Linked DNA regions of Homo sapiens: region 2 is linked to region 1. Evidence: fine-mapped expression QTL. A gene starts in region 1. The other region holds a variant in brackets. All regions are shown on one strand. Distances are between the middles of the regions. Region 1 holds the start of FOXN3-AS1 (FOXN3 antisense RNA 1). Region 2 has its middle 49 kb from the start of PSMC1.

The links.
Region 2: its variant is fine-mapped to the expression of FOXN3-AS1 in B cells (Fairfax 2012, PIP 0.95).

What each region holds. Positions count from the first base shown.
Region 1 is chr14:89,414,599-89,419,972 of GRCh38, forward strand. It overlaps FOXN3-AS1 (FOXN3 antisense RNA 1), which reads left to right and starts at 2,756. Exons shown (of 2, transcript NR_036500.1): 1 at 2,756-3,198; 2 at 4,562-5,195. It overlaps FOXN3 (forkhead box N3), which reads right to left and starts at 2,635. Exons shown (of 6, transcript NM_005197.4): 1 at 2,273-2,635. RefSeq lists enhancers at 1,487-1,781, 1,796-2,329, 2,330-2,862, 2,487-2,781 and silencers at 2,477-2,686, 2,727-3,016.
Region 2 is chr14:90,204,508-90,209,881 of GRCh38, forward strand. No RefSeq gene overlaps it. Among named protein-coding and RNA genes, the nearest start is that of PSMC1, 49 kb to the right of the region's middle. The variant C/CT (reference allele first, on the strand shown) is at 2,220.

The sequences.
Region 1 (5,374 bases):
GCTGGAGTGCAGTGGTGCAAAATCCGCTCACTGCAACCCCTGCCTCCCAGGTTCAAGAGATTCTCCTGCCTCAGCCTCCCAAGTAGCTGGGACTACAGGCGTGTGCCACCATGACTGGTTAATTTTTGTATTTTTAGTAAGACGGGGTTTCACCATGTTGGCCAGGATGGTCTCAATCTCTTGATCTCGTGATCCACCCGCCTCGGCCTCCCAAAGTGCTGGGATTACAGGCGTGAGCCACCGCGCCTGGCCAAGATGCCCAACTCTTAAGGAGAGAAAACTTCATGAGGCATTGCAGTACAGACCAGGCAGGATGCTCCAGACGTCTTGGGTTCACTCACAGGGAATATTTCTTTCTGTCAAATAAGGAGGTTACCCTGACACATTTCAGACAAAAAACAAGCTAGCATCTTTTGGCTTGGGGATACAACAGAGTCTGGTCTGATCCTGCTTTTAACTTCTTTATGAACGAATTATAGCACCACTTGTCTTTCTTAAAGTTTCCTCAGATCCCATCAGAAAATTTTCTGATGACCAGCATATGCCCACAGTAGAGTATAAAACAGAACTACCCAGCCACTGAAGTCAACTTTAGCTCTAAATGAAAGTTTTATGTCTCCTGAGCTTCCAAACAGGAAAATTATATCATGGCTGACAGTAAAGTAATTTAATTGCACTGTTGCTATGACAACATGCTGCTCTCTTTCTTTTTAATTTGCTTATTTGTCAGTAGCTTCCCAGAGGAACTAACACGCTATTCTCCATGTTTCCTTTTGTTTTAAACAAACACTGCCAGCAATATGGTTTTAGGAGAAAAAGTGGCATTGTCACGAAGAGAGGGTTATGGGAGTTCAGTACCCTTGGATCATGTGTGCGTTTTGTGCTGGGACCCCGTACTCTCCAACCACTCACTGCATCCCTATAAATCCCGCATTTTATACCAACAGGGTGAAGAGCTGCTGATCACTACAGTTCCATGTAAAAACAAAACAAAACAACAATAACCAAAAAAAAAAAAAAAAAAAAAAAAAAACAGTTCCCAGAAACCACAGCTGAGGAGTTTTCCATTATTATACTCTAACTACAGATTTCGCCAAATCTTTTTTTCCTCCTGTTTCAGAGGGAAAAAAAAAGAATCTGGATCATGTGAGTTGCAGTTAAGCAAACATTTTTAATCTGCTGCCAACAAGGCTGCTCCACCAGATACGCAAATAGTTATTCACTGGTGACCTCCTTACAACTTTTCTCTACACACACACACACACACACACACACACACACACACCCTCTTTTGTTTTTTTTATGACTTGCTGTGTTTTGTTACCCTCTTTATTTTTTAACGGAGAAAATGCGGCAAGAAAGCTTAGTTTCTCGCCTAGTAAACAGAAGGTCTCCAAATAACTGACAAAGACATTACTGGCCCAGCTCTGAACAGATGTTCGATGCGAACTTTAAAAAGTTAAGAAATCTTCCCAGAGCCGAGCAGTAGCGAGTTTGGGGGGCCGGGTCACCCCCGCCCACCCAGCACGCGCGCGCGCGCACGCACGCGCTTCACTCTCGTCTACTGTACTTGTCAAAAACATTTCAAGGGGACCTGCGGGAGTGGCGATTGGCTGCACCCCGCGTCAATCAGCGGCGTTGCCGGGCAACGGGGGAAACTGCTCTTATCCCCATATACAGGGCAATTGGGAGCTCGCATACCTTCACTGCCGGTCAGATGTCATAAACCTTTTATTGGCCGCACCGCGGCGAGCCTCGAAAACAAATCAATAAAAGCCCGCCGTCCCCCAACTTATCCAGGGCCCAAGGAGGGTTTCAAACAGGGCCGGGATGAGGGGGGTCGGGCCTCGGGGGTCTCCGGAGACGTTCGTTGCCTGTGCCAAGTCTGCACAGTTTGGCCGGGGGGTGATCTTTGTTAGGAGCCTGTTTCTCATCTTGGGGTCTCCACTTGATCGGAACCCCCTCCCCGGCCCGGAACGGCGGGGACCCCGTCCTCCGCAGACAATACCAACTCTGTTCCTTGCGGGCGTCTTTTCGGAAACCGAGGCACCGGGAAGCAGCACGCACGTCGGGGCAGGAAACTCTTCGGACCCGGCAACTTCCCGGCTCGGGGGCTCCCGGGGTCCACACCCGACCCTCCCCCCAGGACCTGCGGGGTCCCTCGTCTTCCCAGAGCGGCGAGGTAGTCTCCAGGACCGTCTCGGACGCGCCTCCCGCCCCGGGTGCCCCCCGAGCCCACGCGGGAGCCGGCAGGAGCGGGGTGCAAACTCACCTGGCCGGAGCGGGGCACGGGGGTGCGGGGGCGCCGCTGCCCTTCAGCAGGAGCCGACAAACTTTCGCGGGCGCCCGGCGGGCATCGCTCGGTGGCCCCGCTAAGGACGCGCGGGCGCGGCGCGGCGAGCCCGGGGCGGCGGGCGGCGGGGGGCGGCCGCGGGCGCGGGCGGCAGGGGCGCGGGGGTCGCGGCGCGGCATGGGACCTGCGGCGTCCGCCGGGCGCGCCGCGCGTCCTCCCGCCGGCCCCGCCGCTCTCCCCGCCCCGTCCCGCCTCCCGCTCGCCTCCGCCGCGGCGCGTCGGGCCGGGGCGCGCCGAGCGGCGAGAAATTGTTTCCACTGCAAACAAAAAAAGGCGACACATGACCAGGCAGGAGGAGGGGAAGCGCGGGGAGGGAGGAGGGCGGAGGGAGGGACAGAGCGGAGGGCGGAGGGAGCCGGAGAAAGGGAAAACGTGGGCCTGGCCGCCAGCGGCCTGGGGCGCGGGGCACTGACCCGCCGGGGCGGACCCTGCCCGCGCCCCTCGCGCGCCCCAGCACTCAGCCAGGGCGGAGGCCGGGGCTGGGCCGCGCGGCCTCGCCTCTTGGGCCCCGCGGGGCGGGGGTGACCGGCGCGGGTCCCGCGACCCAGGGCGGCCGCGACCGTGGGCGGTGGGGCAGGTGGGTCAGGCGGCGCGTGCCCTGTCCCCTCCCCGGGCTCCGGCCACACGAGCGGGCCGGCGCTGCGCTGCTGGCAACGTGTCGCGGGAACGCTCCTACCCCATCTGCATGCCTTACATGGCTCGAAAGTAAAAATAAAAAGAATTACGATGCGGGCGAGGCTTGTGGGGGTGAGAAGAGGAGATTCCACGTCTCCCCAGTGCTGCGTCCTGATAGGACCCCCAGGGCCTTCCGAGCCCTCTCCCAGCGACCACCTCGTGTCCCGGAGGTAAGCACCGCAGCGTCCCACCCAGGTGGCCGCGTGTCTCCCGAGGGAGGGCCGGTGGCCATTACAAGACAAGAGGCACCGTCCTAAAGGCCACGCCGGTGGGGCCTCTCAAGTGGGTTGTGCGGAACGCCCCGGCCGGCCTAGAGAGAAAACAGGTCTCATTTCCATCTCAGTTTGAGCTCTCAGGAACCAGACTGACAATTCGCAAGCCACCCAGCGAAATGGTGCAGCCACCACTCTAAGTCTCTAGGCACCTCCAAATAATAGCACCCACTGCTAAAGCCACACCAACCAGCCGCCTTGGGAGAGGATGAGAGGAGAGAGTCCAACAGGACACCCTGGTGGTGACAAAAATAAAAATGTGATTGCACATTACTCCCAGGTAGCCAAATTGGTTGGTTCCTCTACAGAGGAGAAGCCCAGGGCACCCTTCCTGCCACCCCCTCCTGAGCCAGTGGACAGGACATCGTGAGCGGTCTGAAAACTACAGAAAAAAACAGCGAGTAGACCTGGAGAAAGCTTTCTAGCATGCAGTACTTTTAAACCTAGCCAAAAGGAGGGACTAAGGGAAACACCAGTTAGGCTTCTGAAAATTTTTTCTGTCTCAAAAAATAGACCCCCCCCCCCCAATCTGAGAGTCATTCCCCCTAACAAAGGTTCAAGAGGGCAGGTGACAAGTCTTCAGCAAAGATGTGCCTTTCAGACTCACCGGAGACCTTACTACTTCCAAGTTGTGTGGCATCTCCCCATCTGGAGACAATTAGGAGGTGGAAGCCCAGGGGTAGCCTGAGGTCATCCAGCCCCACCCCTTTGATTACTGAGCACTTGATGCGACCTACCCAAAGTCACTAAGCAAAAGGCACAAGGTGGCAGAGACAAGTCAGATGATCTTTGAAGTCTCACGCCAGAGATTCTCAGGGTTAGAAGTGGTAACAAAGCCAGGATGAGACAATGTGTACCCTGCTTTCCTGTAGCTCCGGCTAATGCAGGTCCTGCCCCTCCATCAGCGCGTCAGTTGAGGGTGCTTATTCTCCGCCAGAGGAACCAAGGCCAGAGACCTTTGTCCAAGCCCTTGCTGGCCTAGAGAGGACGAAGTCGCCCCCTTACATCTTCCTCTTCCATCCCCAGCCCCCAACCCCACCCCCAAGTCCCCCAGCTACACTCACACAATAGCCAGAAATCTCTTTATATTAAGTAGAGGTGGCACCTTATTTTCACCGGCCCCAGTCCCCTCCTGCTTTCTCAGAGTTCAAAAAGAGGGGATGTGAGCCAAAGGTGATTGTACATGGAATATGTCATTCCATGTGTGTTTTTGCTTCTTGCATTCTCAAACATATTTCTTAATTTCTCTCTCCCATTACAGTTGCAGCAAGAGATGTGAGAAGGTGTCACCCTGAAGAGGAAGTGGTGGACCAGCCCTGCCTGATGTGGACAGCAGGGGACACATGTCTGCCTGTCGGTCTATCTGAAATGGGGGAAAAAATGCTGAAAGCCAAAGGAGGGCTTAATGTGGCCTTTTCCACCTTCTAATTCCATAGAACCTCAGCTCTGGGACTTGCTTCCTGACCTAGGGTGCAGGGGCCAAATTTGTTTGGGAACAACCCCATTCACAATTCCCCATGAACTTTCAGAAAGGACCCTTGCGTCTTAGGTCCTGAGAAGTCACAAATAAGCAAGCTGCATTGTCTAATGTCTTGTCTACACTGTTTTACAAACACATTTAACAGCCGAATTGTATATGTGCCCTAGAAATCACTTTGAGAAACACTTATTTCCTGATAGAGGACTTGATGGGACCATTCTGCAGCCCCATCTGAGCATGGGCTGGAGAGTACATAAGTATCTGGGAGCTGGAAGTCCTCAATTCCAGGCTTATCTGCCCCCATCAGCGTGGGACCTCAGTTCCTCCTCCAAGGAGAAGAGCGCCCCTCCCTTGATGTTTTGTGCATTCTTTTGCTAAATGTTTCTCTGGTCAAGAACTTTAATCCCCCTACACACACACTGTATTGGTTATTAGAGCAGCATGGCTATTTATGGAATAGTTAAGTATAAAACCCGATATACCTTGCCCCCCTTGAGGCAGTACAACTGAGTAGGTGAGCAGGTGCAGTCGGGAAGACCTGAGAGACTGCCCAAAATAGGAAGAGTCCGAGGCAGGCCTGGAAAGACAGTCTTC
Region 2 (5,374 bases), 790 kb after region 1:
GACTATGAGAGCTTTCCACCTCTACCCCTGCTCCCTGGCTCTTCCCTGCCTTTAAAACCAGCTTTTTATTCCACTGCTCTCTGCTGGGGGTTAGGGCTGGCACACCTGGGTAATAATGTTTACCACTAATTTTGCAAATGGGTTTCCATTAATTAGCCAGCCTGTTGCTGTCAGCTGCCTGGCTGGAATTCTTTCAGCAGCTGGCTTTTTGGCTGTTAAAATGCCACAGGGACTTGTTGCTTGATGCATTTCCTCAGGGGGTTTGCTCTGTCAAGAAGGCTTTGCCAAAATAGAGAAAGCTAAAACTCCTGTTAACAAATTGCACCTAATCTTATCTCCATGTAGGCTTCCCTAGCTGATTTGTCCTGGGAGTTGGGGGAGCTTGTGGGAACACATATGTATGCACTGGAAGGGGGGGTGGGGGCTGCTGGCATAATGTGGGCAAGTTTGGGCAGAGCCAGGCCCAGGCAGGTTGTGGTAGAGACAGAGGTCAGCTCAGAGGTCAGCTCAGATGGGGCTGTTTGGCTCTTGTCCCAACACCCATCTGTATCACCCTCCCTCCATGGCCTCAGTTCTATTCTCTTGCATTTCCCCATACACAAGCCACTGGATCAGACTCAGGTCTCAGGAAACAGGCACAAAACAGACATGGCCCCTGAAATCTCAGCTCGGACAGGGGTTAAGGCAAACACAACCTCCCTAATTAAGTCAATGAATGAAAAGACTTTCAGAAAAGAAGGCAGGAACACAACCTGCCGAGAGGATCAGAAAATGCTTTATTGACAGGTGGCATCTGAGTGGGTCTAGAAGGTTGAATGGGAATTCAATGGCTGCTGGCAGAGTTACAAGTATGAGAAAAAGCAGGGAGGTGGGAATCCCAGGGCATATACGAGAAACATTGATTTCAACCAATTTGGCTGAAAAACAGGGAATTAGAAGCAACTACAGAGGTGATAACAAATAATAATAACAGTTCCCTCTGAGAAGTCAATCTGTAAATAAACAAGCTCTAGAAAATGTCTACAAGCTCATCAGAGTCCCAGTTTCTTAATGTGATGGGTGATCCAGAAGCTATTAGTAAGCACTCACCAAGGGTGTCCCCAAGGCTGTGACTAAAACACACTTCCACCCACAGCCCAGCCCCTGGGACTCCCCTCCATACATCCCATTCCATTTCATCCTCATAGCGCCTGAGGAGGTAAGATTATATGCCCACTCTACAGATGGGGAAAGTGAGGCCCAGGATTTTGAGGTAGGCAACAACATGTTCAGGGTCTCGTAGTGTGAAGTGCTTAAAAAACAAAACAAAACAAAAAAAAAACGGTGAATAAAGGAGGCAGATTTTTCCAATGAACTTACAGTCTTTTCAGAGTTTTCTTTAATAATTCAATGCATGTGTTCATTGAGGCGCTGGGGATAATAGGGTGACCCCAGGCTAGGAGGGGAACTGAAACATGAGCCAATGATTAGAGCAACACAGTGTTGCCATAACCTAGGGAATGGAAGGAGGGATTCCCAATGCTGCCACGGAGCTCAAGGATGTCTTCCATGGGAGGTGAAGCCTGACTGAAATCTGAAAGAATCTCATCCTGTGCAGAAAGATGGACAGAGCCAGGAATGCAGGTAGAGGGAACAGCCTGTGCAAAGGCACAGAGACACGAAACACAAATTGACTAGAATATAAGTTCTGTGAGAACAAGAGCTTTGTCTTCATCAATATGTCCAGGCCCTGACCATAATAGATGCTCTCAATGAATATTGAATACATGAATGAATAAATGTATCAACAACTGAATTTTATTAACTTTCAGGAAGAGTTCAAACCGCAAATTGTTTTAATCTTTTCCAACTTGTCCTTTCACCCATGTCTTGAGGAATCCTCCTTTCCACCCCTTAGGCAGATCCCAGCATGTCTGTCCCTTCTAATATTAAGAATAGTCGCATTTTTGGAAGACTCACTCTATTAAGAAGTTCACTCTAGTCCAAAGCATCCTCCATCCCCAGCTCAGACCCAATTCATGGCTCAAGACCTCACAGTGGGGAAGGGGCAGAGCCTTTCCTTATTCCTCTCGTCCTCCCACTCTGCTGCTTCTAATGCCCCAGTGTCATGGCATGGGGAGGAGGGATTTGAGGAAAAGTTGTAGTCTTTCATTGAATCAGCTGTCTGCAATGAGCTACACTCCATTTTGTTTTGTTTGTTTGCTTATTTGTTTGTTTTT[C/CT]TTTTTTTTTTTTTTTTGGCCTGGCTTTTTTCTTTTTTATGTATTTGTTTATTTATTATTATTATACTTTAAGTTTTAGGGCACATGTGCACAATGTGCAGGTTAGTTACATATGTATACATGTGCCATGCTGGTGCGCTGCACCCACTAACTCGTCATCTAGCATTAGGTATATCTCCCAATGCTATCCCTCCCCCCTCCCCCCATCCCACAACAGTCCCCAGAGTGTGATGTTCCCCTTCCTGTGTCCATGTGTTCTCATTGTTCAGTTCCCATCTATGAGTGAGAATATGCGGTGTTTGGTTTTTTGTTCTTGCGCTAGTTTACTGAGAATGATGATTTCCAATTTCATCCATGTCCCTACAAAGGACATGAACTCATCATTTTTTATGGCTGCATAGTATTCCATGGTGTATATGTGCCACATTTTCTTAATCCAGTCTATCGTTGTTGGACATTTGGGTTGGTTCCAAGTCTTTGCTATTGTGAATAATGCCGCAATAAACATACGTGTGCATGTGTCTTTATAGCAGCATGATTTATAGTCCTTTGGGTATATACCCAGTAATGGGATGGCTGGGTCAAATGGTATTTCTAGTTCTAGATCCCTTAGGAATCGCCACACTGACTTCCACAATGGTTGAACTAGTGTACAGTCCCACCAACAGTGTAAAAGTGTTCCTATTTCTCCACATCCTCTCCAGCACCTGTTGTTTCCTGACTTTTTAATGATTGCCATTCTAACTGGTATGAAATGGTATCTCATTGTGGTTTTGATTTGCATTTCTCTGATGGCCAGTGATGGTGAGCATTTTTTCATGTGTTTTTTGGCTGCATAAATGTCTTCTTTTGAGAAGTGTCTGTTCATGTCCTTTGCCTACTTTTTGATGGGGTTGTTTGTTTTTTTCTTGTAAATTTGTTTGAGTTCATAGTAGATTCTGGATATTAGCCCTTTGTCAGATGAGTAGGTTGCGAAAATTTTCTCCCATTTTGTAGGTTGCCTGTTCACTCTGATGGTAGTTTCTTTGGCTGTGCAGAAGCTCTTTAGTTTAATTAGATCCCATTTGTCAATTTTGGCTTTTGTTGCCATTGCTTTTGGTGTTTTAGACATGAAGTCCTTGCCCATGCCTATGTCCTGAATGGTAATGCCTAGGTTTTCTTCTAGGGTTTTTATGGTTTTAGGTCTAACATTTAAGTCTTTAATCCATCTTGAATTGATTTTTGTATAAGGTGTAAGGAAGGGATCCAGTTTCAGCTTTCTACATATGGCTAGCCAGTTTTCCCAGCACCATTTATTAAATAGGGAATCCTTTCCCCATTGCTTGTTTTTGTCAGGTTTGTCAAAGATCAGATAGTTGTAAATATGCGGCATTATTTCTGAGGGCTCTGTTCTGTTCCATTGATCTATATCTCTGTTTTGGTACCAGTACCATGCTGTTTTGGTTACTGTAGCCTTGTAGTATAGTTTGAAGTCAGGTAGTGTGATGTCTCCAGCTTTGTTCTTTTGGCTCAGGATTGACTTGGCGATGCGGGCTCTTTTTTGGTTCCATATGAACTTTAAAGTATTTTTTTCCAATTCTGTGAAGAAAGTCATTGGTAGCTTGATGGGGATGGCATTGAATCTGTAAATTGCCTTGGGCAGTATGGCCATTTTCACGATATTGATTCTTCCTACCCATGAGCATGGAATGTTCTTCCATTTGTTTGTATCCTCTTTTATTTCCTTGAGCAGTGGTTTGTAGTTCTCCTTGAAGAGGTCCTTCACATCCCTTGTAAGTTGGATTCCTAGGTATTTTATTCTCTTTGAAGCAATTGTGAATGGGAGTTCACTCATGATTTGGCTCTCTGTTTGTCTGTTACTGGTGTATAAGAATGCTTGTGATTTTTGTACATTGATTTTGTATCCTGAGACTTTGCTGAAGTTGCTTATCAGCTTAAGGAGATTGTGGGCTGAGACAATGGGGTTTTCTAGATATACAATCATGTCGTCTGCAAACAGGGACAATTTGACTTCCTCTTTTCCTAATTGAATACCCTTTATTTCCTTCTCCTGCCTAATTGCCCTGGCCAGAACTTCCAACACTATGTTGAATAGGAGTGGTGAGAGAGGGAATCCCTGTCTTGTGCCAGTTTTCAAAGGGAATGCTTCCAGTTTTTGCCCATTTAGTATGATATTGGCTGTGGGTTTGTCATAGATAGCTCTTGTTATTTTGAGATACGTCCCATCAATACCTAATTTATTGAGAGTTTTTAGCATGAAGCATTGTTGAATTTTGTCAAAGGCCTTTTCTGCATCTATTGAGATAATCATGTGGTTTTTGTCTTTGGTTCTGTTTATATGCTGCATTACATTTATTGATTTGCGTATATTGAACCAGCCTTGCATCCTAGGGATGAAGCCCACTTGATCATGGTGGATAAGCTTTTTGATGTGCTGCTGGATTTGGTTTGCCAGTATTTTATTGAGGATTTTTGCATCAATGTTCATCAAGGATATTGGTCTAAAATTCCCTTTTTTGGTTGTGTCTCTGCCCGGCTTTGGTATCAGGATGATGCTGGCCTCATAAAATGAGTTAGGGAGGAGTCCCTCTTTTTCTATTGATTGGAATAGTTTCAGAAGGAATGGTACCAGTTCCTCCTTGTACCTCTGGTAGAATTTGGCTGTGAATCCATCTGGTCCTGGACTCTTTTTCGTTGGTAAGCTATTGATTATTGCCACAATTTCAGCTCCTGTTATTGGTCTATTCAGAGATTCAACTTCTTCCTGGTTTAGTCTTGGGAGAGTGTATGTGTCGGGGAATTTATCCATTTCTTCTAGATTTTCTAGTTTATTTGTGTAGACGTGTTTGTAGTATTCTCTGATGGTAGTTTGTGTTTCTGTGGGATCGGTGGTGATATCCCCTTTATCATTTTTTATTGCATCTATTTGATTCTTCTCTCTTTTTTTCTTTAGTAGTCTTGCTAGCAGTCTATCAATTTTGTTGATCCTTTCAAAAAACCAGCTCCTGGATTCGTTAATTTTTTAAAGGGTTTTTTTGTGTCTCTATTTCCTTCAGTTCTGCTCTGATTTTAGTTATTTCTTGCCTTCTGCTAGCTTTTGAATGTGTTTGCTCTTGCTTTTCTAGTTCTTTTAATTGTGATGTTAGGGTGTCAAT